Linked DNA regions of Homo sapiens. The protein of the gene in region 1 interacts with the protein of each later gene in a pairwise test. Each region holds a gene or a part of one and is shown in the gene's direction. Other genes may lie near its edges.

Region 1 (4,014 bases):
AAGCAGAGGTTGCAGTGAGCCAAGATCGCGCTGCTACACTCCAGCCTGGGTGACAGAGGGAGGCTCCGTTTCAAAAAAAAAAACAAGAACAAAAACAAAAGACAACAAACAACAAACGTTGTGAAGAACTGACAGCAAAGTGCTGCCCACCTTAGGGGTCACTGCTGTCATCCCCAGGCAAACTGGGGCTGGATTTTTGTTCTAGCCTGTGAGGCTGGGGTCTTTTCTGATTCTGCGCCAGGAGTCGAAACCTGTCTCCAATCCAGGATGAGAAGCCTGGCTTTCTGCCCCAAGGTACCTGCAGGCCTGAGCATCTCAGGCTGGGCAAGGCAGCCCATGCTGCTGACACCCAATCCCTTGGGCTGTCAGCCTGCCCCAGGCCCTCAGATACAAAGAGATACCATTTCCCCAGCCGGGAGCGCTGCCAGCCAGGCCTGTCTAGGCAGACCTACCCGTGGAGAAAGCGAAGACAACCCCTGTGGGAGGTGGGGAGCTCAGCACCAGCCCTACAGTCAGCTCCCCAAGAAGCGCCCCAGCCTTGGGGAAGGACAGGCCCCGAGGGGTTTCCCCTATGGACCAACTTGTTCTACCAGCAGGGGGCCCTCAGACTCAGGTGGGAAGTAGGACTCATGGAAATGTGGCCTCAGCTTCCATACCTGCCCCCTACAGACAAAAATAATAATAAAATAAATAATAATCCTTGCCTGAAGCTTCTGATCAACCTTCATGGCCTGGCAATAGCTCCCTTGTCCCTCCTAGAGGAAACTTGGCTCCTGGCCTGGGGATTCCCATCTCTCTGACTTCACTTGCTCTGGGCAGTTGGCTCTGTGCCCTTGGTAAGGCTTGACCTCTTCTCTCTTCCTTGCTTTGCCTCTGTTTCACTCAGTTGCCTCATGCAGGCCTTCTCAGGGGGCTCTTTCTGCAAAAGCAAGACTGGGTTCGAGAGCAGCCCTGCTGGGTCTGTGGCCCTTACCCATGTTCCATGTCCTGTCCTGGCCAGGGATCCAAGAGCCAACAGCATATCAGGCAGAAATTAGGCACCATGGGTGCAGTGGCTCATGCCTATAATCTCAGCAACTCAGGAGGCTGAGGCGGGAGGATTGCTTGAGCCCAGGAGTTCAAGACCAGCCATGGCAACATAGTGAGACCCTCTCTCTAAAAAAAAAAAGAGAAAGAAGTGAGACTCCAGCCCATGAGGTCAGGTGTTTCCTGACCTGGGGTGGAGGCTTCCCCAGCTCCCAGACTCCCTGTTCCATAGCAGGCGCTTTCTTTGCCCCACTGGTACTGGTTACAGCCTGGTCCCCAAGCCATGCCAGGCTCCAGGTTTCTCTCTGCCTTCTAAACAGTTCTGTCCGAACTTCTCCCTTCAACTCTCCTTTGCCCCTGCCATTCCCAAGAACCACAAGGAATCTTAACTACCCCTCTTTCTCCACATCTCCAGGAGCTGGTGGGGTCTCTCACTATGGAATAGGTTTGCCATAGCCCTGTTTTCTTCCGCAAACTCAGAGGCATATAGAGAAGCCAAAGCTGGACAGGGACTTTGTCAAACCTAGACCCTAACTGCGGCACAACCAGTGGCACATGCTCTGGGTGCTGCGGGGGAGGTACAGGAACCAGAGGACTCCCCCGCCCTTTGGGAGCTGAGGCTCGCTACAGAGATGAGCCAATGGCAGTGCAGGGCTGTGCACTGCAATCTGACTGCCCTGGAAAGACATTTCAAGGAAAGGCATTTAATAAAAAGAAGTCCCGAGTCTTGCACTTTAAAGACATCCACTGCCTATGCAGGATATGCTGCAGTGGGAGCAGGTCGGTGGCCCACAGGAAACGGCTCTGGGACTGTGTTGACTTCAGTCAGCACATGATGTTACTGATGCATTTGGAGCTGTGTCAACGAACCCAGGGTGTCAACATGAGGGAGGGCCACGCCTTGCTAGCCTCAGTCTGGGCCAGATCACATGCTCTTGGCTCTGGGCCTGGGTACACCAGAGTACTTCCAGAAGTCAGTGGCCAGGGGTGAAAGGTTAGGAGAGGCTGGAGCTGTTTAGCCAGGAGATGAGAAGATTCAGAAGAAGGTCAACAAGTCCCCAGGTACCTAAAGGGCTTTCAAATGAAAGATTAGACAAGATTCCACAGACCTAACCAAGCCCAGCAAAGACGAAATTCAAGACAGAGAATTTTCATGCACAGATGGCAGACAGTTCAGAGTGATTGGTGGTTAAGCTGCCCAAAGCACTATGCCACAAAGGATTCTGGGCTTGTGTCTAGGCTCATCGGGGAAGTATGTCATAATCAGTCATCACCATCTGCCGGGTGCTGACTGGGAGGTCATGCCATGAGTGTGATGTCTTTGCCACCTGCTTGAAAGTCAGCATTAGAAAGATCTTCCAAACCATTCAGGCTTTTTGAAGGTGAGCAGGTGGTCTGTATTAAGTCATTTCCCAGGACCCAAATACTCCTGTAGACCAGAGGTTCTTGATATTTTTCATGCCATGGGACTCTTTGACAGTCTGGCACAGCCTATGGACCTCTTCTTACAGTAATGTTTTAAAACGTGTAAATAAGACCAAGGATTGGGCCAGGCACGGTGGCTCACGCCTGTAATTCCAGCACGTTGGGAGGCTGAGGAGGGTGGTTCACAAGGTCAGGAGATTGAGACCATCCTGGCTAACACGGTGAAACACCGTCTCTACTAAAAATACAAAAAAAAATTAGCCAGGCGTGGTGTCGGGCGCCTGTAGTCCCAGCTGCTCAGGAGGCTGAGGCAGGAGAATGGCGTGAACCCGGGAGACGGAGCTTGCAGTGAGCCGAGATCTTGCCACTGCACTCCAGCCTGGGCGACAGAGCGAGACTCCATTAAGAAAAAAAAAAAAAAAAGACCAAGGATTACAAAAGAAGTCAATTAAATTGAAATACAGTTATCAAACACTTAAAAAAGCAAATTCGTGATATAGAATATATATAGATATGCTTTTTTTTTTTTTTTCTGAGACAGGATCTTGCTCCATCACCTAGGCTGGAGTGCAGTGGTGCAATATCGGCTCACTGCAGCCTCTGTCCCCCAGGTTCAAGTGAGTCTCATGCCTCAGCCTCCTGAGTAGCTGGGATTACAGGCTTGTACCACCACGCCCGGCTAATTTTTGTATTTTTAGTAGAGACGGGGTTTCACCATGTTGGCCAGGCGGTCTCGAACTCCAGACGTCAAGTGATCCACCCACCTCAGCCTCCCAAAGTGTCGGGATTACAGGCGTGAGCCACTGCGCCCAGCTATATAGAAATGCTTTCTACTACATTGTTATAAGTGGGTCTGACTACTGTAATGTTCATGAGTGATGAGTGTAAATGATACCTCACGATATATACAATGACTGTAATGTGATCATGAGAGTATCTGTGATTTCTGTGCATTACAGAGGCACAGACACAGTGACTTGAGGAAATGCCAAGTTAAAACTCCTTGAGGTGAAGACTGACCCCTTTGAGAGGGAGCCCCACTCTGGGGCCGGGTCACCCAGGTCTGGGCCTCTTGACATTGAGAGGTGTGAGCCTCTTCACTAGCACCAGGGTAGGATGCTGACAGGGTCTGACCTTCCCTCTCTCTCCTACAGATGGGCGGACAATTTCATGGCCGAGGGCTGTGGAGGGAGCAAGGAGCACAGCTTCCAGCATCCCTTCCTCCAGGTATCTGGCCCTGTCCCTCCTACCTCCTGTCTCCCGGGCCTCAGACCAGGCGCCACCCCCGGCCATGAGGCCAGGCTGTTTCCTGACTTAGGAGTGGAGGTGTCTCCTGCTCCCAGAAGAGCCATCCACTTCTCTCTTTCCCTCCCCAGAGCAGAATCCAAGGTTTAGAATAGGGCAAAGAGCACCATCCTCTGCGAAAGTCCTGGCAAGTGGTCATGTCCTCACCACATCCAAGTCAGGACACGTGGAAAACATCAGCCCTAGTGACAAAAGTCAGCTCTCTATCCACTGGGAGCCCAGACCCCAATTGGGACAGGGCAGACACCATAAATGGAA
Region 2 (4,014 bases), on another chromosome or scaffold:
TGATTCTGGAACCTAGAATTTCTCTAAGCCTGACACTTTTTCTCCTTCTCTGGCTTTAAAGATGTGCTGGAAGGCTCACCCTGACTCCACTGCAGGGATTCAGCTTCAACATTATTCCCCTCATAGGACATGTAACCTCACCCACACTTCTACCCAGATTTCAAAATTCCAAGAAATGAAAACTATCTCCTTAAACAAAGAGAACTTTAGGTTTAATAATTCTTCAGATAAAGTATCTCATGCCCGGAGAGCATGAGAAACTAGACTAAGGCACAGATCTAGGAGTAGAAATAAAATGGAGGTCCAAACATGGATCGACTATTATGGAACACCTGATAAAACTCAGAGAGTTACAACAAAAGACACTCACGTGTGTCATTCAAATCCTCACAAGAGTCCTTCAGGATAGTGTCATTATCCTTATTTTACAGATAAGGAAACTGGGGATGAATGAGGGAAAGTATCCTGCCTACGGCCAGCTCATCAATATCAGAACTGGGCTTCCAATGAATATTAGATAAAACTGATATGTTTTGGGAGTTTATCACATGCCTCCCCCTATGCTGAGTCCATTATATGTGTCATCTTATCCAACCTGTACCACAAACCTATGAAGTGGTGAAAATACCTTGCCCAGGGTGAGTTTAGCAGTAACTGGTGGATATGGGATCTGAACACACGACTGGACTCCAAGACATATGGTCAGATGTGCAACTAGATGCCTAGGCATTGGACTCCCATCCCAGTGCACTTTTCCATCTCCCTCACTAGGAAGAGATTCTAGGTGTCATTTCCAATTTTTACATGTTCTTCACTCCACCCAAGAGAGGCCAGAACCATTCCTAAAGCACCAACACATTGAGGCAAAATGTCAGGCAGCAGAGCTGTGGCACCTTTCAAGGATGACAAGCCTTTAACTAAACTCTGGCCTTCAGTAGGGAGAATGTTGAGCTGAAAACAAATCTGGGCAACATTTCAGGTGCTGAGCCTTGTTGCTGACACCACAGAGGCCCAGCAATGCTGCTGAGTTAGTGGTGGCAGACAACTTGCTCCTGGAATCTACAAGGGAACTGGAAATGTTAGGAAGGAAGAAAGGAAGGAAGAGGAAGAGGAGGAGAATTAACATGGCATAGAGAAAAAAATATCACAAGCGTCTGAGCCAGACAAGTCTCAATCCAGTCATGTAAACACAGGCTGTTAATATTTGCTACCATATATTGAACACATTCTAAGTGCCAGGCTAAGTACTTTATGTGACTATTTCATTCAATAAAAGTCACTTGAGCTTATTAGCCCCAGGTTTCTAATGTATAAAATTGATTTAATAACATGTAAGTTACAGGGTTGTTATAAGGATTAGAGCTGCAATGGTCTAATGCTTGGAATTCAGCAGGAGTTAAGTAAATGTTTACATTACTAATTACGAAGCCAATATAAGCAAGGAGGAAGATTCCGGATGGGACAGGCCATCTCGCTATAGGAAAGGAAAGTGGAACAGCATTCATCCTCAACATTTTTACGAAGACAAAATGAAGACTGGAGTAGAAGACTGATCAGTGCAGGTGTAGCATAAAAGTGTAATCCTGGAAGATGTGGTGTGAGAAGGTAGCACAAGTGAAGCAGAGATACAGGAGATAGGGAAGGGAAGCTGGAAGCAGAGGTCACTGGAGGGAGAGGGAGATGGACACATTCAGGGCTACAAAGCAAGTTCTATGTGATTTGCTCACCTCTCAATTGTGGGACCCCTCAAAATGTGTACAGTACTCTCCCAGTGACATGCTTCTTGACCACAATGGATGAACTGTGCCCAGCATGCCCACTTTCCAATGCTCCACTGATCCCCATGTTTTGTTTCTGAAGGACAACCAGCCTTGGAATAATGGCAAATACCTTCTTAAGTTCCTACAAAGTATGGTCCCTGGGAAGTTTATGTCTGTAAGTCAAACCTTGGGAAGTAACTGAGTTTTGATGCCTCTTCCAGCATCATCAGCATCATGCTATTACAATCCCAAACCATGGGGGTTTCTCACAGCTTTACACCAAAGGGCATCACTATCCCTCAAAGAGAGAAACCTGGACACATGTACCAAAACGAAGATTACCTGCAGAACGGGCTGCCAACAGAAACCACCGTTCTTGGGGTAAGTCCACCTCATTATAAGGGGAATACTGAGAAAATACTTTGTAAATGTATCTAGACTACAGATCTACAGTGGGTCTGGGAAACTCTTTCACTCTTTTCTGGCTGACTCCAGGCTAATGAGGACATGAAATGGAGCTTTAAGGGAAGACTCTTAAAGCTCTGCAGCAGTTTCTAGAAACTAAAACCACTAGATCTTTTTCACTAGCATGCTTCACAATTAACAGGTTAGTCTTTCTTATTTTATTTATTTATATATTTATTTATTTTGAGACAGAATCTCCCTCTGTCACCCAGCATGGAGTGCAGTGGCACGATCTCAGCTCACTGCAACCTCCGCCTCCTGGGTTCAAGTGATTCTTCTGCCTCAGCCTCCCGAGTAGCTGGGACTATGGGTGCACGCCACCACGCCCGGCTAATTTTTGTATTCTTAGTAGAGATGGGGTTTCACCATACTGGCCAGGCTGGTCTTGAACTCCTGACCTTGTGATCTGCCCGCCTTGGCCTCCCAAAGTGCTGGGATTACAGGCATGAGCCACTGTGCCCAGCCACAAATTAGTCTTTCTTATTTTGTCATTAGTACAGTAAAAATTTTCTATTTAACCATATGGATTTTACTCAATATGATTAAATTAACTTTGAGCTTATTTTTCAAATATTTTGAGATGAGACGATCAAGACTAATCTCATGACCCATTTTTCCCCGTTCATATGAGTAACTATAAGACATCCAAGTGTCCCAGATCATCATCCCTCATATCCAGAACTTTAATCTCCATGTGGTTTTGAATACCCTCTTATAATACCCAGGTCCTATTCACTGCCTATTTAGATGGATCTCCCTGCCCTGTTTCTTTACAATCTATTCTTAGTACAGCAGGTAGGGTACTCTTTTAAAAATGAAAGTTAGATCATGTATTCTCCTGGCTCAAAATTATCCAGTGGGATTCCTTTTTTGCTCAAAATGAAAAGCAAAGTTGGTAAAACATAGCCTAAAAATCCCTACATAGTTTGTACCATGCCTCCAGTACTTCACAAGCCTCATGTCCTACTACTTTGCTCTTAACTCTATTCTGCCTTGCATGGAACTTGTCTGTACCTTTACAGACAAGACATAGTACACATATAAGCTCTCCAATGGTAGTGATTTTCATTTGCTTCATTCCCTCGTGCCTGGCACACAACATACCTGTTGTGGTATTCAATAACTGTTGATGATGTGAATGGTTGACTTCTTTTTTTATTTCTCCTATGTTTGCATCATCTTTCAATTGCACATGCATTAAACTATGAGCAAAAGCATGGGCTTTAGAGCAAGCTAACAGCTAAACTTCAGTTCTTCCACTTGCGAAATAATTATTATTAAAATCCAATGATGAACAAAATAAGATGAATTACAGCAGAAGAGATGACCTGCTCTATCTAATTTCAACTGAAAAATCTCTTCATTAACACTCCTGTGAAAAGTTTGCTCTCTATTTCCACCTCACTGGACAACTTTTTTATCTACTTTTCAAGAAAATAAATTTAAAAACTGTCAAGTATCTTTTTCAAAAAAAGTTAAAATGTGTGTATGATCACTTTCCGATTTGCTGGTTTAATAATCCTATCAGAAAAGAAGAGGTTAGCTATACATGACTTTCTCTAGAAGCATATCGATTGGCTCCTTGTAACATTTTTCCTCTTTAATATAACAAATTATAATGTATTTTATACTCTTTATACTTTACCGTGTGCATTCAAATAATCACTTTTATCTGTTTGAAGTGCAGTCTAGATTTCCTGTCTTCTCTCTTGTAGACTGTCCAGATCCTGTGTTGCCTGTTGATTTCAAGTCTGGGGGCCATCTTGGTTTTTGCTCCCTACCCCTCCCA
Region 3 (4,014 bases), on another chromosome or scaffold:
GTTCAAGACCACCCTGGCCAACATGGTGAAACCCTGTCTCTACTAAAAATACAAAAAATTAGCCGGGCACGATGGCAGGCGCCTGTAATCCCAGCTACTCAGGAGACTGAGGAGAGTGGTTTGAACCCAGGAGGCGGAGGTTGCAGTGAGCCAAGATCGTGCCACTGTACTCCAGCCTGGGTGACAGAGTGAAACTCAGTTTCAAAAAAAAAAGATCTAGAATTAGAAATACCATTTGACCCAGCAATCCCATTACTGGGTATATACCCAAAGGATTATAAATCATGCTGCTGTAAAGACGCATGCACACATATGTTTATTGCAGCACTATTCACAATAGCTAAGACTTGGAACCAACTCAAATGTCCATCAATGATAGACTGGATTAAGAAAATGTGGCACATACACACCGTGGAATACTACGCAGCCGTAAAAAAGGATGAGTTCATGTACTTTGCAGGGAGATGGATGAAGCTGGAAACCATCATTCTAAGCAAACTATCAAAAGGACAGAAAACCAAACGCCGCATGTTCTCACTCATAGGTGGGAGTTGAACAATGAGAACACTTGGACACAGGGCGGGTAACATCACACACCAGGGCCTGTCGGGGGTAGGGGGCTGGGGGAGGGATAGCATTAGGAGATATACCTAATGTAAAGGACGGGTTGATGGGTACAGCAAACCAACATGGCACATGTATACCTATGTATCAAACCTGCATGTTGTGTACATGTACCCTAGAACTTAAAGTATAATTTTAAAAAATTTAAAAAAAAAGAACATCAACTTTATGGTACAACTGAGTCTGAATTCGAAGACATTTATGTCTTCAGGTCTGGTTTTTGGAAAACAAGTTTCTTGCGTAGTCACAGAATTCTATTTTTCAAAGCTGAGAGTGGATACAAATGGTATAGGTTGAGCTGGGGAGCTGGGTGTTGGTATTGAAGTCTGTGGCCCTGGCTTTGTTTTCATCGACTTGGGTGAGTACCTGAGGAGGCCAGCATCGGGGAATGGAACGATTCAGGAGCTCAGCTGCTGAAGCTGCGAAAGGCACAACTCTCAGACCTGCTTCCTGGTAGTGTGAATGCAAGTCTGGTAGATGTTTCATTCGGGCACCAGTTGTCATCTTTTAGAGGTGCCTTTTTAGTATTGCCTTCTGTCTCTAAGACAGGGACCACCAAGGCGTCTGGGTGCCAGGTAGGAAACTCACCATCAGTCAGTCTGAGTTTGAGAACCTGGAGGCAGAAATCACCAAGACATTAGACCCACAGATTGCCTGCAAATCCACCAAACCCCTGGGCCGAAAAATCCGTCCTGAGTCTCTAGCATATCAGTGATCATAAAGAAGCACTCTCTGTTTCAGAAGCTTTTGAATGCTAGTGGGTCTGTAGTGAAAATTACACATACACTCGTATGTGGTCGAGGGGAAATCTGGGCCTGATGAAACGTTTGAAGGCTAAATGTTTCATTCTTTTTAAAAATATGTATATTATTTTTGAAATGGGGTCCTTGTTGTGTTGCCCAGGCTGGTCCTGAACTCCTGGGCTCAAGTGATCCTCCCCTCTTGACCTCTCAAAGTGCTGGGGTTACAGAAATGAGCCACTGTGTCCAGCCTGATGGCTGAATGTTTTGTTCCAGCAATAGCCTCAGTAGCAGGTTGCAAGGCTCTGTCCCATACATGCTGGTAGTTGGCTTCAATTTAAGTAAATGCAAAGGCAGATATATTTTTGACAGATTATTCCTTCTCTTGTGTTAATAACAATGAGCTCATCTCCTTGGTTAGTTTGACTAGAACATGCCCTTTTCTTTTCTTCAGGCCAGACAATGCAGTGCCAGGGGACGTGCTGGTGCTGACAAAACCCCTGGGGACACAGGTGGCAGTGGCTGTGCACCAGTGGCTGGATATCGTGAGTAAACCACTGCTGTGATGGGAGGGAGGGGAATGGTACGTTTGCAGGTAATTTTTGTTGGAGGATTTGGGAAATGAGGTTTTTTAGTTTCATATCCAGGGAGTTAATATTAGTCAAGTCCTTAAAGAAATCCTAGGAATTGTTCATAGTCTTTAAATAACAGTTTTGCATATTGAATGCTTGATTGCAGTAGGTAAGCCCCAGCTTGGAGCTTTAAGATTTTTCTGTAAAGAATTTGCTCGGCAGGGGGTTAGCTTTGTTTACTTGGCCCTGAGATAGCTTCGTCTTTCATGTCTTAAACATCACTAAGAAATAATATGAAGGAGAATTGGTGGAAGGCGTAGTGTTTGGGGTATAAATAAAACCAGGGTTATTGACAGTTTAAATTGTTTTATGCAGTTTTTGGTTGTTTTTGTTTGGTAGTTTTGTCTTTTTAAACTGATGAGTAACTCAGAACATTTTGATAAATAATTCTCTTGTGCAGAATGAATCTATCTATAATGAGGATATGTCTTGTGAGTCATTTTTCCAGTGAGCTATAATCATACTTTAAGATTGGTTTTCTTCATTGCCGTAACAACTCACAAATTAATAAGATTGGGGTATATTCTCACATATCATGGTGCATTTAATTTCTACAACTATCATCTGAAACTACCAGTCCTGAGAAACAGTTGAAAGAGAATAATCAATAATTACACGTCTTTCATCAACCTGGTATATCTTAGCTTGATGTCGCAGGGTAGAGAAATTCTCTAAGGCTGCCACGTTCTTTAGCAGTTTTTCCCTCCTCCCCCTGTGATGGGGAGCAGAGCAGAAGGCCACTGCGGGGATGTTGCGCAGAGGTGCCTTCCAGCCCCACCTCCCAGGCCTGAGCTAGCAGGGAGCTGGAAGCAGGTGAGGCAGGGAGTGTCACGGATGGGGGAGCCCTTCTCCACTAGCAGGACACTACACTGCATGTACAGCAGTGCCGCCGTGTGTCCCGCTAGACTACACATACCCAATAAATCACAGCACTTAATTACAGAAATGTGGGATGAGAACAGAAAAGACGCCATGCTGACAGGTCTAATGGACACCTAAAATACTATCCACAGAAAAACCAGAGTTGGAAAATTCAGTTTTCTGAATTAAAGTCCCTAGAAGTTAAATAAGAAAAAGTTGCTGTTTTTCTCAGTTGCTAGAAGTAAAGATTAATCACATTTTCCTCTCTTTCTCTCCCTCACCTACATTTCTATTATCAGCCTGAGAAATGGAATAAGATTAAACTAGTGGTCACCCAAGAAGATGTAGAGCTGGCCTACCAGGAGGCGATGATGAACATGGCGAGGCTCAACAGGACAGGTATGACAGGTGGGAAGGGCGCTTCGGTCCCAGGGGTCCAAGACAGTAAATGTCTTAGGCTTTTCTGGCCACATACTGTCTCAGGGTAGGTGGCCAGATTTTTGGCCAGTGACTACAGACCGTCTTCTCCTGGTACCAGGTTGGCATTCCATAGATCACTGCAGATGGTCCCTGACTTACAGTGCTTTATAATTAAGAAGGAAGTCCTAACTTCTGACATACCAGAGGAACTATTTCTAGAAAGCGTTTGTGTGGGTTACCTATGTAAGATTTGGAAGCAAACCATTCAGAATGGAAATTTAGAAAGTTTAAGATACTGGAGCTATTTCCAGAACATAACCTTGGAAGTCTAGAAGTGCCCCCACTCCCACCCATCCCCTGCATTCCTGCTTAGGTGTAACCACTGAATTTTGTGTTTATTTTCTTGCATTTTAGAATATTTTTATTGCACAGCCCTTGTGTTCTTAAGCAGCAAATTAGTTTTGCATTTTTTTTACTTGTTTTGTTCACCATTGTTCCTGAGAGTCTCCTTGTTATATGTAGCTGTAGTAGATTCCTTTTGGCTGTGTTGATTTTTCCACTGGCTTCTCTGCTCTCCTGTTTCACACTGGGGCGACTGCTATGGACTTCCTTGGCCCAGCCCTCTGAGGCACGTGTAAGAGATCAGTACTGGCTCAGCTTTTATAGATAGTGCCAAACTGTCTTCCAAAGTGTTCACCACAGTTTACAATGGCACACTATGTTTAGAAAGCGTTTTT
Region 4 (4,014 bases), on another chromosome or scaffold:
GTGTGGATGAACACATATAAAATGCAGAATTTGCTATGAAGTAGAACAAATATTTATGAAACATATAGCTGAATGTTTTTGGAGAGAGTTATTTCTTCTCATGGACATGGCACATTATTTAAAAAAATCAGAAAATACTGTATAATCTAGTTGAGTGAACATGAGGACTGTTTTTAGATGAAGGATACCAGTAATAACCTAGGTGATTGATTTCCTTCTGTTTCATCATAGACCATGTGATGAAATTATTGCTATAAAATATGAACGTTGCAGTTGATTTTTAGAAGAATTTATAGTAGAATGTTTCCACATTGTCTCTGAGTTAAAATCTCTGGTGTTTTCAAATTTTAGCTGTATTGTGACATTCGAACTAATAAAGATTCCCTGAAACTTAAATCCATTTTGTTGTGCCTTCTGTATGTCTGGTGCCGTGTCAGGTGTGCAAAGCTGGATGAGAGAGGTATTTCCCTTCAGGTGCTTTTTGTGCACTTGTAGGTAGCAGAGAAATGACATGTGTGTAATAAAACATGACAGACACAAATATGAATTTTAAATTCTTTATTACATACTGCCTGGTACTGTCACTATTGGTGAATGGACTTCATCATGCCTGCTAAACTAGAAGTTTCTTGAGGATCAGGAGTATGAGTAGCCATCATCATATTGTATGTCCCTGCCCTGTGTGTGTATTTTGAAGATTACGTTGTTAATAGAAGGAGATACATGTTTGTTTATTTCACTTCAAGAGCTTAGCTAGTGGATGAAGGAAACCTTTTTGAAATCTGATTCTTGATGCCTAAAATTTCAACTTTGTATTCTGGCTGTGGGCATGCAAATTACAAGCAGTGACACTTTCTCAAGCATGATTACAGCTTCTAACCAATTCAAACAATAAAGATAATGGTGGACTGCCTTCACTTGAGTAGACACGATATTTGCTCTTGTCACATGACTACCACTTTGGGAAATTTCAAAAGGATGAGAGACTGTATACGTATCTGAGGTTTTTCCAGGCTACATAGACAAATTTGATTTTTGTATTATTAACCAGTCAATCTTTTCTTTAGAAGACAGATGGAGTTTGTGTATTTGTGTAGTTGTGAAAAAGCAAGATTCTGGAAGTATGTCTTTAGTGGAAAGGAATCAGGTCACATCAGAAATTCTACTTGTCTGTGACTAAAGGGTGATAAAATAGAGAATTTGGTTTAAATGGCTGGTTTTGTGGGTTGAAGCATGCTATGGATCCCATTAAATGTTTTTAAAAAAAAACTCAATAGGGTGATTTCTGGGGTAGTGGAGATGTGCCTTTGTGTGGGAGTCAATAATGAAAATGTTTAAAATTTCACCAAAAAGTACAGCACAGAAGTTTGGCTGTTGGTTACTTTCACCATCCATTAATAAAAAATACTGAAAACCAGACGGTGTGTTAAGGACAGAGTTTTCTTAGGACATATGTGGATGATTTCAGCATTGAATTGTGCTTAGCACAAGATAGACATCTGTGTGTAGACATTGGCCCATGGTATGTTTTTGTTTTTTAACTCACTAGGTGAGAACTTAAGTCTTACTTAAAAGCAGTAAAAAAATTTGTTTCCATTAATAAAATGGTTCCAAAGAATCAGGTGTTAACGTTCCCGCTCCTGATAAATTACAAGTATTTTCACTGTGAGACAGAAGAGTTTTGATCAGAATCAGTTACGTTTTCTTGAGATTGGGATTGGTACAACACTTAAAGAGTACGGACTCTGGATGCAGGCAGCCTGTGTTCAGCATCATGGCTGTGCTTTTAATTAATGGCATGGCCTTAAATATTAAATAGCTTTCTCACTGCCCTGAGCCCCAGTTTCCTCATCTGTACTAGGGAGTTAATACTACTACTACGTTACAGGGTTGCTGTGAGAATTAGCATAAAGCACTTAGAACTTTAGTTAAAAGCTTTAAAAAGTATTAGCAGGTGCTAGTAGCAGTGGCACTGGATATTATTTTAAAGGTGAACTGTTGGACCACTTGGATGCTTTGTTTCTTTGGTTGGGAGGCTTTCTACTAGAGCATTGAAATTCTTTCTTTCTTTCTGTTCACTGACTATTGGACTCATCTCTGCTGTTAGGCTTTAGGAGGGGGAAGTACTTTTTTTAAGTTTTGAATTGTCACACAGGCATCTGGTTATCACTGATGGCAGATGGACTAAGTAAAGAGAGACATCTCTGTTTCTTGGAAAAGGAAGGCCGACAAAGCCTGGGCTGGCACCATGTTGCAGCTATTGAAATACTATTTCCCTGTGGACTTGACTTGTTTAGCTGTATGATACTTCTGAATAAAAGGAATAAACCCCAATGGTTTCATTTAACAGAATTAGGCTTTCGTTAGAAGGCACTATTTTTTACTTGTATAACCTTAGTTGATGGTAAACTTGAAGCTTGTTAGTATCAGTGTAAAGCCATGTGTTGTGAGCTTTCTGTGCCACTATGAATGTTCTAATAGTAGCTTTTTTTTGTAATTTTAGAAGTAGCTAAAATTGCTGCTCTGCCCCAGTAATTCAGGTGGCTCAAGAATGACTTCGTAGGATAGCAAAATTATTTGTTTATGGTAAAGCTAAAAACAAATACTGAAGCTACCTAATCAGGAAAATAATTTGATAATTATAGTTTTGTTTAGGCTGCTGCTGAAATAATAGCTAACTTTAAAAAGTTAAGTCCAAATGTTTTAGTTTAGTTGTGTGGACATTGGAAACTGCTGACTAAAAATAAATGTTTCTGCCTAAACAAAGTGAATTGCAGACTGTTCTTTCCTATTCTGGCTAATAACCAGGTCTTAGTTTTTAGTTGAAATCCATTTTTATAAAATATATACTATAGAGGTTTATATAAAATATATTATTAAAAGCATATTTTGCTTTAAATGTGCAGGGTAAAGTGTTATAATTCCTTCTTCCATGTTGTGCTGGTTTTGTTTATTTGTTTCAGCTGGTTTTTATAAGCTTCCACACACTAAGGAGGTTGGCAAATATGCTTGTATTTAGAGGTGTGACTTTTGTTTTCCTGTTTAAGAGAGGAAATGATCATGACTGTTGCACCAAATAGATAGAGATATATATTTCCTTTAGTTTTAGATACCCTGAGGACTGTGCTGGGAAATTTTTTTTTTGTTTGAGACAGAGTCTCACTCTGTCACCCAGACTGGAGTGCGGTGGTGGCATCTCAGCTCATTGCAACTTCGGCTTCCCAGGTTCAAGTGATTCTTGTGCCTCAGACACCCAAGTAGTTGGGATTACAGGCATGCGCCACCACGCCTAGCTAATTTTTATATTTTTAGTAGATGCAGGGTTTCCCCATGTTGGCCAGGCTAGCCTCGAACTTCTGACCTCAAGTGATCTGCCTGTCTCAGCCTCCCGGAGTGCTGGGATTATGGGCAATGGGCACGAGCCACCATGCCTGGCCTGTGTTAGGAAATTTTTAGGAAAACAGGTTGCCATGGTATCAGTACTATAGTCCACAATAAAACTTGCCTGTTTTGAGACAAAGTTCTGTCTAACACATTGTTAATTTTTCTCTAGTGTTCTTTCTTTCTTTCTTTCTTTTTGTTTTGTTTTGGAGATGGAGTCTCACTCTGTCGCCCAGGCTGGAGTGCAGTGGCGCGATCTCGGCTCACTGCAACCTCCATCTTCTGGGTTCAAGCAATTCTCCTGCCTCAGCCTCCCGAGTAACTGGGATTACAGGCACCCACCACCACACCTGGCCATTTTTTTGTATTTTTAGTAGAGATGGGGTTTTACCACATTGACCAGGCTGGTCTTGAACTTCTGACCTCAGGTGGTCCCTCTGCCTCAGCCTCCCAAAGTGTTGGAATTACAGGCGTGAGCCATTGCACCTGGCCACCTAGTGTTCTTTCTATCACACTCTTTTTCAGGGACAGATGTTGCTGTCTTTCAGATATGAACATAATAAAGTCAATGTGTAACCCAAAAGTGCAAATATGAAGATGGAGATTTGATTTATGACTGTGGACAACATTTAT
Region 5 (4,014 bases), on another chromosome or scaffold:
TGGTTTGGAGCTTAGAATTCAGAGATACCAGCATCACAATGCAGGCCCCTTGCAGTCTGGCCCCCAGTCATCTCTGTACTTTATCTTGTCCTCTTTGTCCCCTTTCCACACTGTCCAGCTAAACAAGACTGCTCTTGGTTCTCTGAACATGCCAAGCTATTTCAGACCTTCTTTGCTTATATTCTTTTCTCTTATTGGAATGTCCTGTCTCACTCCCACTCCCTCCAGTTCTTAAAAGTTCATATCAAATATTCTGTTCTCTCTGGAGTCCTTTGGAAGTCCTATTACAATGAATTATTCCTTTCCTCAATCATAGTTCTCTATTTTTCCTTCATTATTGTCTATATCATGTTGTATTATAAATTGGTCATAGTAAACTCTGGCTGTGGTGTCTATCCTATCATTTTGCCCCCAACACCTTGCTCAGGCGTTTAAACATAAGTGCTTAATGTTAAATGTAAGTGTTTAAATGTTTGCTAAATAAAGTCAAAGTCTGTAATCAACCTTAAAGAGTATGTTAATATTATAAAGTATATTTATTTTTATTTTTTCTGACCCTGGCTTAAGTCTGCAAATAAAGTTTGTTTGTTTTTGAGACAGCATCTTGCTTTGTCACCCAGGCTTGGAGTGCGGTGGTGTGATCGTGGCTCACTGTAGCCTCAACCTCCCAGGCTCAAGTGATCCTCCCACCTCAGCCTCCTGAGTAGCTGGGACCACGGGCATGCACCACCATGCTCAGCTAATTAAAACAATTTGTTTTTTTGTAGAAACGGGTCTCCCTGTGTTGCCCAGGCTGATCTCGAACTCCTGGGCTCAAGCAATCCTCCCACCTCAACCTCCCAAAGTGCTGGGATTACAAGCATGAGCCACCGCACAAGACCCAGATGAAGTATTTTTAATAAACATCGGTGCCCACAACAACATTAGAAATGTAGTTTTACTATGTTGAATATAGTTACTATTTAGAATATTTCTTTACAGTTATTTTTGGTCTTTCACATAATCACATAAGTGGTATTTTATACAAAGTAAAAACTGTCATCTTTCCCATTTGTATCTAAACTTGTAGGGTCTAATGAAATAGATGAAGTGCCTGCATTGCTGACTGTGAATCACCGACCCATTTTTTGGGCAGAGGGAACCAGAGCACAAGGTTAAAAATATTCCTTGTATTGGCCGGGCGCGGTGGCTCACGCCTGTAATTCCAGCACCTTGGGAGGCCGAGGCGGGCGGATCATGAGGTCAAGAGAGTGAGACCATCCTGGCCAACATGGTGAAACCCCATCTCTACTAAAAATACAAAAATTATCCGGGCATGGTGGAGCACGCCTATAGTCCCAGCTACTTGGGAGGCTGAGGCAGTAGAATCTCTTGAACCCGGGAGGTGGAGGTTGCAGTGAACCAAGATCACACCACTGGACTCCAGCCTGGCGACAGAGCAAGGCTCTCTCAAAAAAAAAAAAAAAAAAAAAAAATCCTTATATTTGAAGTATAATTTAATTCCCAAGAGATTACATGCTTTTTCTTTAAAAGTTTTCTTTTTTAGAAATTTATTATATGCATCAAAAGCAATTGCGTTTGAGGGGGCTTCTTAAAAGAATATTAGAACTGGATTTGAAAGACTCAGGTTTGCTTCTTGGCCGTGAACAAGTTTGTTAAATCCCTTTGGAAGTCAGTCAGTCTTTATTTGGGAACTGAGAACGGTTATTCCTGTTGCTTTGTAGTACATTTAAAGAGGCTATGCTTTGTGTACTGCACATCCTTACACAGATACAAGGTAATCAGATGTTTTGCTTTATAGCATTTTTGTCCTACTTGTTACCCAGCCTGGAAACCTTTAGAGACTTCCTTTCTTGACCAGATTTTTACCAGGTTTGCCTCCATGAGTCTTTTCCATCAGTCTTTTTCTTTACTCTTTCATGTTTCCTCTGCCCCTACCCTCCCTGAAGCTCTTACTCCTTATGAAGATAGTTACTGTAGTCCTCCAACTGGCCTCTCTTTTTTCTGGTCTCTCCTCCTCTGTTCTGTTGCCAGAATTATTTAATAGGCAAATCAAATCATATCATGACCCATTTCCCAAGTATACACCAGAGGTTCTCAACATTTCCCTCTATTCCATCACACCTGAGGGATACGACAGTTTTGTTGGTAAGGTTATGGGCTTTCTCCTCCCAAGATTTTTACCTTGGAAGTGCTACCACACTCCTCCCCTGGTTGAGAATTAATGTTAAAGAGTTAGGAAATCACTGTAAGATCTTTGCTATCTAGCCTCATTCTTACTTTTAGCTTAATCTTTTATTGGATCTCTTCTTTTTCGTTTTTGTGTTTTTGAGACAGGGTCTTACTCTGTCACTCATGCTGGAGTGCAGCGGTGCCATCTTGGCTCACTGCAACTTCCACCTCCCTTCCTCCTGCTGCCTTGGCCTCCTGAGTAGCTGGGACTACAGGCACATAACGCCTGGCTAATTTTTTGTAGAGATGGGGTTTTGCTCTGTTGCCTAGACTGGCTTCAAACTCCTGGGCTCAAGTAATCTGCCCGCCTTGGCCTCCGAAAGTGCCGAGATTATAAGCACGAGCCACCACGCCCAGCCTGCATCTCTTCTTGTCACCTTATATTTCAACACAAGACCTCTGGCCACTTCCGTTATTGGCAGACTACTCTGAAATATCCTTTCCACCTTTCTCTCTCTTTCTGAGTCTTGGAGTCTTGGCTTAAATGCTGCTACTTCTATTTCTGTAACCTGATTTTCAGAATTAACTCATTATTTTTCTCCCACACAGTGCTAGCCTGATACCTCTACTTATCTATTTTTTCCTTATGACTTTTTAGTTTATATACATGAAGGTCTTTCCTGGATTATAAACTCCTTGAGAGATGTAGAGGAAAATCTTAATCATTTCTGATTTCCTCTAGTGTGCAATATAGTCTTTTACATAGTACTCATTTGTTAAATGTTTGACTGAATTAACTCAAAATTTACAGTCTCTGATTTCAGGAGGAGGAGGATAGAGTTGGAATAACTTTGTATGAGAACTTAGTGAATCCACGTGACACACTCAGAACAGGGCCCAGCATATAGTAAGTGCTCAGTAAGTGGCAGCTTTTAGCTATTAATTTGAATAGGTGGAGACGACACTAGTGGTTGGATACACTGGTTAATTGTATATGCTAGTTTATTATGACAGTGTTCACATATTTATTTCTGGTGTGTGTGTAAAGAAAAAAATCTCATTTTCTTTCTTTTTTTTTTATTTTTATTTTGAGACAGAATCTCGCTCTGTCGCCCAGGCTCGAGTGCAGTGGCGCGATCTCGGCTCACTGCCAACTCCACCTCCTGGGTTCACGCCATTCTCCTGCCTCAGCTTCCCGAGTAGCTGGGACTACAGGCGCCCGACCACAACGCCCGGCTAATTTTTTGTATTTTTAGTAGAGACTGGGTTTCACCGTGTTAGCCAGGATGGTTTTTATCTCCTGACCTCGTGGTCTGCCCGCTTTGGCCTCCCAAAGTGCTGGGATTACAGGACTGAGCCACCATGCCCGGCCTTTTCTTTTTTTTTTTTTCCCGAGACTGAGTTTTACTCTGTCACCCAGGTTGGAGTATAGTGGCGTGATCTTGGCTTACTGCAACCTCTGTCTCGTGGGTTCAAGTGATTCTCCTGCCTCAGACTCCCCAGTAGCTGGGATTACAGGTGCGTGCCACCATGCCCGGCTAATTTTTTATTTTTTAATAGAGACGGGGTTTCACCATGTTGGCCAGGTTGGTCTTGAACTCCTGACCTCATGATCTTCCTGCCTCGGCCTCCCAAAGTGCTGGGATTACAGGTGTGAGCCACCGTGCCTGGCCAGTCATCTCATTTTCAACTTGCATCTACGTTCTTTCATTAATTTTGTGACTGAGTTGGAGAGGGCTTTTGCATAAACAGATTCATGATGGTGGTCCTAAATTATTCTGAAGACAGGCAAACCTGTCTGTAGATGAGCAGGTTTTTTGCATATGGCTTAAGAAAGTCTGG
Region 6 (4,014 bases), on another chromosome or scaffold:
ATCACTCTGTTGCCCAGGCTGGCCTCAAACTCTTGGGCTCAAGTGATCCTCCCGCCTCAGCCTCCTGAGCAGCTGGGGGCTACAGGCACAAACCACCACACCTGACTCAAGATTCTCACTCTTTTTTTTTCTTTTATAGAGACTATGTTGCCTAGGCTGGTCTTTAACTCCTCGGCTCAAGCGATCCTCCCATCTTGGCCTCCCAAGGTGCTGGAATTACAGATGTGAGCTATCACGCCTGGCCATTTTTTTTTTCTTGAGACTGGGCCTTTCTTTGTCTCCCAGGTTGGAGTACAGTGGCACAATCTCAGCTCACTGCAGCCTCAACTTCCGGGCTCAAGCAATCCTCCCACCTCAGTCTCCTGAGTAGCTGGGACTGCAGATGCATACCACTACACCCAGCTAATTTTTCAATTTTTTTTAGTGATGGAGTCTTGCTCTGTTGCCCAGGCTGGTCTCAAACTCCTGGGCTCACGTGATCCTTTGACCTCAGCCTCCCAAAGTGCTGAGATTATAGGCATAAGCCAAGGATTCTCACTCTTAATGCATTCTCTTTTCTTTGGACAGATCTGTGGTTTTTCTACTTGAAGGACACAATGTTTTCCAAACTAGCACATTTGCAGAGGTTTGCTGTACTTAGTCGCGGAGTTCATTCTTCAGTGGCTTCTGCTACATCTGTTGCAACTAAAAAAACAGTCCAAGGCCCTCCAACCTCTGATGACATTTTTGAAAGGGAATATAAGTATGGTGCACACAACTACCATCCTTTACCTGTAGCCCTGGAGAGAGGAAAAGGTACGTTTCAAATTAATCCGTCTTTTCCCTTTTCTTGAAACCTTTTATAAAAAAAAATTGCTTCCATATTTTCACAATATACATTTTTCTAGATGTGTTTAATGTGTATATTGCAGACATGGTTAATTCTTCTTCTTCTTTTTTTTTTTTTTTTTTTGAGACGGAGTCTCACTCTGTCACCCAGGCTGGAGTACAGTGGCACAATCCCAGCTCACTGCAACCTCTGCCTCCCAGGTTCAAGCGATTCTTCTGCCTCAGCCTCCTGAGTAGCTGGGACTACAGGCGTGCGCCACCACACCCAGCTAATTTTTGTATTTTTAGTAGAGATGGGGTTTCACCATGTTGGCCAGGCTGGTCTCAGACTCCTGACTTTGTGATCCTCCCACCTTGGCCTCCCAAAGTGCTGGGATTACAGGTGTGAGCCACCACGCCTGGCCAGTTAATTCATTTATTGAGTGTCTAGTGCTGCTGTGTTAGGTGCTATGGAGGCTTCAAAGAGGAACCATTGTCTTTGTCATGTAGACCTTACCAAGAGGGAATGCAAGAGAAATAAGGAAAGTACTATCATATTGCTGTCATTTTTTTCTTTTAACTTTTATTTTGGCATAGTTTTAGACTTAAGAAAAGTTGTAACAAATAGTACTGACATTTTCCTTTTATACTTCTCCCAGATTTTCCAAGTGCTAACTTTTTGCTGCTTTGGTCTTAGTGTGTTCACTCCCTTCTCTTCTCCCCCCGCCGCCTGCATATTCTACATTGTTTTCTGAACTGTTTTGAGAGGAAGTTGCAGACATGACATCTCTTCTTCTTTTTTTTTTTTTTTTTTTTTTTTTGAGACGGAATGTCGCTTTGTCACCCAGGCTGGAGTGCAATGGTGGGATCTCGGCTCACTGCAACCTCTACCTCTCGGTTTCAAGTGATTCTCTTGCCTCAGCCTCCCGAGGAGCTGGGACTACAGGCCCACGCCACCACGTCCAGCTAATTTTTGTATTTTTAGTAGAGACAGGGTTTCATCATGTTGGCCGGGCTGGTCTCGAACTCCTGACCTCAGGTGATCCACCCACCTCAGCCTCCCAAAGTGCTGGATTACAGGCGTGAGCCACCGCGCCCCGCCACATGACATCTCTTTACCCATAAATACTTAGTGTGTCTTTCCAAAAACGCAATGACTTTTTGAGATAGGGTCTCATTCTGTTGCCCAGGCTGGAGTTCAGTGGTGTGATCATGGCTCACTGCAGCCTGGAACTCCCGGCTTCAGGTGATTTTCCCACCTCAGCTTCCCAAGTAGCTGGGACTACAGGTGTGCCTTACCATGCCTGGCTTATTTTTTGTAGAGATTAGATTTTGCTATGTTGCCCAGGGTGATCTTGAACTCCTGGTCTCAAGTGATCCTACCACTCAGCCTCCCACAGTGCTGGGATTGCAGGTGTGAGCTACTGTGCCCAGCTGACTTTCTCTTTTATAACCATAGAGTAATTGTAAAAATCAAGAACTTAACACTGGTACAGCACCATTAGTCTAGAGACCTAATCCAGATGTCATTTGTTCTCTTTTATAACAAAAGAAAAACCTCCGATGAGTTGCATTCAGTTGTCATGTTTAGTCTTCTTTAACCCAGAACAGTTCCTCAATCCTTGGTTGTCTTGGTCTTCTTTCCCTTTGTATTAAGTATCTTGTGGGGACAGAGTGTAAAACTCTGTAAATATCCAGTTACTCATGAACTTTTACTCACAATTTCAGCATCCACTAATGATTCTTGCCTGAATAAATGATTACGGTGGTAGTTGCCAAATGGTGATTTAATCTACAATTTGGAATAAATAACAGCCTTAACCAAATAAAACCAAAGTTTATTACTTAGCTTTGTACCAGAAAATGACAATATAAGAGTATCACACATTTTGGTCATTTGCTTGTATTTTATTTGGTACCAGTACTGTAGACATATCTTCTTTTGAACTATTGAAAATCTGTTTCATATTACATGACATGGCAACCTTGTTTTTACTTTCCCACTAGCAATGTATGAGAGTGCCAATTTCTTCAGATCCTTGTCAAAAGTTGTTTTTTTAATTATAACCATCCCAGGGAGTATGAGATGGTATCTCATTGTGGTTTTAACTTGCATTTTCCTAATGATTAGTGATGTTGAACATCTTTTCATGTGTTTCTTGCCATTTGTATATCTTCTTTGAAGAAATAGCTATTCAAGTCTTTCCCCATTTTTTAAATTGGGTTGTTTGTCCTTTTGAAATTGAGTTGTAAGAATTCTGGATATTAGATCCTTATCAGACACATGATTTACAAATATTTTTTTTCCATCCTAAGGGTTATTACAGTCTACTTCTCATGATTTTTGTCTGTTATGTGTAACTTCTGCTTTTTTATTTTTAAATTTTATTTATTTTATTTTTTTTTTTTATAGGCAGGATTTTGCTCTGGTGCCCAGGCTGGAGTGCAGTGGCACAATCTCAACTCACTGCATCCTCTACCTCCCAGGCTCAAGCAATCCTCCCACCTCAGCCTCTGTAACGGGACCATACGCGCGCACTACCATGCCCAGCATTTTTCTGTAGCGTCAGGGATTTTGCCGTGTTGTCCAGGCTGATCTGGAACTCCTGGGCTCAAGCAATCCCTGCCTTGGTCTCCCAAAGTGCTAGGATTACAGGCGTGAGCCACGGCTCCCTGCCTAACTTCTGCTTTTAAATTCTAATTTTGGATCCTAAATCTTAGAATTAGGTAAAGGTTTTACTCCAGAGTTTATAACCTTTTTGTGTTATTTTTGTTAAATGTGTGTTTTGAAGCTGGGCAGATAAAATACAATTCTTAGTAATTCCTTACAAACCAAAGTTTATTATGCCTGAGCTAAAACAAGCTTTAACTACAAATATGTATTAAATAGAGGTTCATATATAGGCATTCAGAGGGCTTGCTAGCACTCTTAATTTTTGGACTTTATGCCGTATAGTAATTGTCTAAAATTATTTTCCTTTCTTATGTATTTTAGGTATTTACTTATGGGATGTAGAAGGCAGAAAATATTTTGACTTCCTGAGTTCTTACAGTGCTGTCAACCAAGGGCATTGTCACCCCAAGATTGTGAATGCTCTGAAGAGTCAAGTGGACAAATTGACCTTAACATCTAGAGCTTTCTATAATAACGTACTTGGTGAATATGAGGAGTATATTACTAAACTTTTCAACTACCACAAAGTTCTT
Region 7 (4,683 bases), on another chromosome or scaffold:
CCATCTCTACTAAAAATACAAAAATTAACCAAGTGTGGTGGCATGCGCCTGTAATCCCAGCCACTTGGGAGGCTGAGACAGGAGAATCGCTAGAACCTGGGAGGTGGAAGTTGCAGTGAGCCCACATGGTGCCAGCCTGGGCAACAAGAGTGAAACCCCATCTAAAAAAAAAAAGCAAGGCGCCATTGGGAAGGGGAAGTGGGGCCTGCATGGCTGAATTCAGAGAAGGAAGGGAGTCTTGGTTATCAGATTATCTCTGCAGCTGATCTCCAAACCTATTTCCCTTCTTCCTGGCACAGGGGCCACTCATTTCCCAGACTCTTTTGCATGGAGGCATGGTTGTGTGATTGAAATCCAGCCAGGCGAGCAGGCTCAGCCCACAGAAACCTCCCATGGGCCACCCCCATGCCTTTTCTTCCTCTGGTTTGTGTGGAATGGTGCTGAGCCCCCAGGGCGACTTTGGTGGAATCTGGTGTTGAAATCAGAGTCCCACCGCCGGGCGCGGTGGCTCACGCCTGTAATCCCAGCACTTTGGGAGGCCGAGGCAGGCGGATCATGAGGTGAGGAGATCGAGACCATCCTGGCTAACACGGTGAAACCCCGTCTCTACTGAAAATACAAAAAATTAGCCGGGCGTGGTGGCAGGCGCCTGTGGTCCCAGCTACTCCGGAGGCGGAGGCAGGAGACTGGTGTGAACCCGGGAGGCAGAGCTTGCAGTGAGCCGAGATCGTGCCACTGCACTCCAGCCTAGGCGACACAGTGAGACTCCGTCTCAAAAAAAAAAAAAAAAAAAAGAATAAGCAAATCATGCAAATCATCCTGTTCTAAACTCTGAACCGCTGCTTCCAAGACCGTCCCTGCCCTTGCCCTGGCCGCCTCTCTCCTTGTTAACTGGGCTCCATTCATTCTTTCCATTTCTCTAACACGTGCCAGGTGGTCTCATCTCCTGGCCTTTGCCCTTGCTGTTCCCTGTCATCATTCAGGTCTCACTTGTCATTTCCTGACCATGGTACTTATAAAAGCAGTGCCGTCTGCCCCATCCATGTCACCTCGTTCATCTCCTTCACCTCCGAAATGATCTCGCTTTTGGGTTTACGGCCGGTCTCTTCACCTGGAGCATCAGCCGGGAAGGTCAGGGTCGCCCTGGCTCGGGCCTGTTCACATTGGGGTCAAAGGCACACATTGGGGGCTCAACCAAGGCGAGCTGCGTTCGCGGGGCCGGGTCTTTCCGCACAGGCGGAGGGCGGTGGCGGGCGCGGAGGCGTCGCGCGAGCCAGGGGGCAGCCACGGGCCGGGGGTACCTAGCGCCACCCGCTTCGCTTGCATCAGCTGCGCGCCCCATCCCGAGGAATGGTAGAGGCAGCCCCGCCCCCGGCCCGCCCCCGCCTTTCCATTGGCTGCCGCGCGGGGCGGGGAGCGGGGTCGGCTCAGTGGCCCTGAGACCCTAGCTCTGCTCTCGGTCCGCTCGCTGTCCGCTAGCCCGCTGCGATGTTGCGCGCTGCCGCCCGCTTCGGGCCCCGCCTGGGCCGCCGCCTCTTGTCAGCCGCCGCCACCCAGGCCGTGCCTGCCCCCAACCAGCAGCCCGAGGTCTTCTGCAACCAGGTGAGCCCACCGGCCGGGCTCGCGCTTTGTTTTCCGGCCCGAGTCCCCCGCAGGCCCCTAGGAAGGCCCCGCGCCGCCGTGGGCCTTAGTGTACTCATCTGGGGCTCGAGGGGTTTGCAGAGGCTGACCTGGAAGCACATCTGCCCCCTCCTCTCCTGCAAGCATTTTAGCCCCTTCGCCGCCTCTGACAGTCCCCGTCCCATTTCCCCGTGACTTGGGCCCCCTCTCCGTCTTCGCCCAGCCTCGGTCTGTTTTCCAGGGCCAACTCTCGGGGTTCCGTTCTCCCCATGGTCCTTGCTTTCGGGTCTCCGCAGGGTCCCCACCCTCACCCACTCAGAAGACGCGACCAAGTCCCTCTTTGCAGGAACTTTCCTGTCTTTTCCTTAGTCATCCCCTTTACCCCCTGACTCATGCCCTCATCCAAGGAGTTCAAAAGGAAAAACCAGGAAAGAGGTGATTTGCAGCCACGTTCTCCAGTTCACCATGGGCGAGGCCACGCTCGGCTGCTTCCATTGCTGGGAGTAGGGAATCCTGGAGGACCTTCGGCCCCAGGGGGCCGACCCCAAGGGGTGTCTGCGGCTTCCAACGCCGGCTTCGACCAAACCAAGGAGGAGCTTTCCAGGATAAAACTGATTCCTGTGGTCCATTTATTGATTGCTCAATCAGTAATACTTTGGAATATTTTTTGTTTTGATCTTTGAGTTTGGTTAAAGTTCTAGACTTCACAGAGGCTGAAATTGGTTATGAAAGAGTTTGTTTTGTTTGTGCCAGTGCATGTTGGCTGCCTTCTCTGACTTAAGCTTTTTCTCCTATAAATGGAAAGGCGCTCTGAGGGTTAGGTTCACACAGGCCCTCATCAACCAGTCACTTCATAGTTAATCACAGCTCCTGTCCTGTCTGCACAGCCTTTGTGCAGCACTGTTCTAAGCGTCTACCTGTTTTGCAATTTAAGGTAATTTTTACAACAGCCTCAGTAGGAAGGGACTGTAATTCTCCATTTTACAGATGAAGAGACTGAGTCACAAAGAGGTTTAGTGACTCACCTAAAGACCAAAGTCAGTGGCATAGTTGGGGTTCACAGCTGAACTTCCAGGAGTAAGCCCCTAACCAGAACATTCCATGGTATGTTGTGACTCTGGGTGGGAACAAAGGGACCACCGATCCTCTGGGACTATTGCTGATTTGGGATGCTGTAGAGCTGGCTCCTAGCCAGCTGCTTTCAACAGCACACCTGCTGGTCTGGCCCTGAGTGTGGCTGCAAATCTGGATATAGGTGATGGGTAAAGGCACATGCGTGTGATTTTAGGGGATGTTACAAAGGTCATTTGCAAGGGAATTTTTAAAAGGATAAAATAAAATCTTTTGCATAACACAAGCTAAAAAGGCAGCAGCTATGGCTCCCTTGGCAGCCTGTGCAAGTTCATGCTTGGAAGACTTGAGCATCAAAAGATCTAGCAGAGGCCAGGTGCAGTAGCTCATGCCTGTAAATCCCAGCATTTTGGGAGGCCGAGGTGGGATGATCCGTTGAGCCTAGGATTTCGAGACCAGCCTGGGCAACATAGCAAGACCCTGTCTCTAGTCTCTACTAAAAAAGTAAATTAGTTAGGTGCGGTGGCACATGCCTGTAGTCCCAGCTATATGGGAGGCTGAGGTGGGATGATCCCTTGAGCCTAGGATTTCGAGACCAGCCTGGGCAACATAGCAAGACCCTGTGTCTAGTCTCTACTAAAAAAGTAAATTAGTCAGGTGCGGTGGCACATGCCTGTAGTCCCAGCTATATGGGAGGCCGAGGTGGGAGGATCACTTGAGCCTAGGAGTTCGAGGCTGCAGTGAGCTATGATTGGGCCACTACACTTAGTCTGAGCAACAGAACAAGACCCTGTCTCAGAAATGTCCTCAAGGAACAGCCATCGCCCTAGGAACCCTTCTGGCCACAGGATCTGATTAAAATCTTTATCCTTTATCACATGCAGATGAGGCAGCTGGGTCCAGATATGCACCCAGGCCCATAGGTAACACATCCTGTTCTCCAGATTTACTCTGTGGGTGTAGGCTGGAGGAGCCGAGTCAATTCCCTGTGGCTGCTTTTCTTTATCAGACTTTTTGAGATCATTAAAGTAACACATGCCCACTGTATAAAATTGCAGAGGACTGACTTACAACTCTCTGGACATGGTCAGTCAAGGTGATTCATGCCTGTAATTCCAGCACTTTGGGATGCCAAGGTGGGAAGATCGCTTGAGATTAGATGTAAGGCTGCAGTGAACTATGATTGTGCCACTGCACTCCAGCCTGGGCAATGGAGCAAGAACCCATCTCTTAAAAAATAAATAAATAAATAAACCTCTCTGGATACCCCATTTTACTCCCTCCAAGAGCACTGTGAACAGGTGGGTGTGTCTCTTGTAGACATTTTGTTTGCATTTACAAGTGCCTGCAGCAAGAGAGAGAGAGAGAGAATGCAAGCACACCAGACTTTTTTTTTTTTTTAACATAAATGAGATGCAACCACTTATATTCTGAAGCTCGCCGTCTCACTGAACAATGTACCTGGGTTATCATTCTGAGTACGTTCAGATCTCATTTAACCCTTTCCAAGGACCACAGAGCATTCTACTCTGGTGGCGCCGTGCTGGAACTGGACCTCTTAGAGCCCCCTGGGCTGTTTGCAGTGTGGCCTTATTGCTGACTCAGCAGGGAAGAGGGATGGTGCATACAGCAGTGGACTCTGCACCTCAGCTGCCTCATCTGTAAAATGGGGTAAAATGGCTGGGTGCAGTGGCTCACACCTGTAATCCCAGCATTTTGCAAGACTGAAGCAGGCGGATCACGAGGTCAGGAGTTCGAGACTAGCCTGGCCAACATAGTGAAACCCTGTCTCTACTGAAAATACAAAAATTAGCTGGGCATGGTGGCGCGCACCTGTAATCCCAGCTACTTGGGAGGCTGAGGCAGGAGCATCACTTGAACCTGGGAGGCAGAGGTTGCAGTGAGCCGAGATCACACTACTGCATTCCAGCCTGGGTGACAGAGCGAGACTCCATCTCAAAAAAAAAAAAAAATGTGGGGGGTAAAATTCCA

What was found.
Region 2: the proteins of SLC35F6 (region 1) and MS4A7 interact in a two-hybrid assay, tested with the Homo sapiens proteins (one large-scale study listed by BioGRID and IntAct).
Region 3: the proteins of SLC35F6 (region 1) and SEPHS1 interact in a two-hybrid assay, tested with the Homo sapiens proteins (one large-scale study listed by BioGRID and IntAct).
Region 4: the proteins of SLC35F6 (region 1) and TBPL1 interact in a two-hybrid assay, tested with the Homo sapiens proteins (one large-scale study listed by IntAct).
Region 5: the proteins of SLC35F6 (region 1) and KIAA0232 interact in a two-hybrid assay, tested with the Homo sapiens proteins (one large-scale study listed by BioGRID and IntAct).
Region 6: the proteins of SLC35F6 (region 1) and OAT interact in a two-hybrid assay, tested with the Homo sapiens proteins (one large-scale study listed by BioGRID and IntAct).
Region 7: the proteins of SLC35F6 (region 1) and ALDH2 interact in a two-hybrid assay, tested with the Homo sapiens proteins (one large-scale study listed by BioGRID and IntAct).

Annotation. Positions count from the first base shown.
Region 1 is NC_000002.12:26,770,646-26,774,659, forward strand, and holds part of SLC35F6 (solute carrier family 35 member F6 precursor), read left to right. Parts: intron 1-3,605; coding exon 3,606-3,678; intron 3,679-4,014. UniProt on the Homo sapiens protein: Involved in the maintenance of mitochondrial membrane potential in pancreatic ductal adenocarcinoma (PDAC) cells. Promotes pancreatic ductal adenocarcinoma (PDAC) cell growth. May play a role as a nucleotide-sugar transporter.
Region 2 is NC_000011.10:60,381,148-60,385,161, forward strand, and holds part of MS4A7 (membrane-spanning 4-domains subfamily A member 7), read left to right. Parts: intron 1-1,981; 5' UTR 1,982-1,994; coding exon 1,995-2,141; intron 2,142-3,940; coding exon 3,941-4,014. UniProt on the Homo sapiens protein: May be involved in signal transduction as a component of a multimeric receptor complex.
Region 3 is NC_000010.11:13,327,593-13,331,606, reverse strand, and holds part of SEPHS1 (selenide, water dikinase 1), read left to right. Parts: intron 1-1,818; coding exon 1,819-1,909; intron 1,910-3,156; coding exon 3,157-3,256; intron 3,257-4,014. UniProt on the Homo sapiens protein: Synthesizes selenophosphate from selenide and ATP.
Region 4 is NC_000006.12:133,955,910-133,959,923, forward strand, and holds part of TBPL1 (TATA box-binding protein-like 1), read left to right. Parts: intron 1-4,014. UniProt on the Homo sapiens protein: Part of a specialized transcription system that mediates the transcription of most ribosomal proteins through the 5'-TCT-3' motif which is a core promoter element at these genes. Seems to also mediate the transcription of NF1. Does not bind the TATA box.
Region 5 is NC_000004.12:6,785,727-6,789,740, forward strand, and holds part of KIAA0232 (uncharacterized protein KIAA0232), read left to right. Parts: intron 1-4,014.
Region 6 is NC_000010.11:124,408,754-124,412,767, reverse strand, and holds part of OAT (ornithine aminotransferase, mitochondrial isoform 1 precursor), read left to right. Parts: intron 1-567; 5' UTR 568-596; coding exon 597-795; intron 796-3,802; coding exon 3,803-4,014. UniProt on the Homo sapiens protein: Catalyzes the reversible interconversion of L-ornithine and 2-oxoglutarate to L-glutamate semialdehyde and L-glutamate.
Region 7 is NC_000012.12:111,765,495-111,770,177, forward strand, and holds the start of ALDH2 (aldehyde dehydrogenase, mitochondrial isoform 1 precursor), read left to right. Parts: upstream 1-1,438; 5' UTR 1,439-1,488; coding exon 1,489-1,602; intron 1,603-4,683. UniProt on the Homo sapiens protein: Required for clearance of cellular formaldehyde, a cytotoxic and carcinogenic metabolite that induces DNA damage.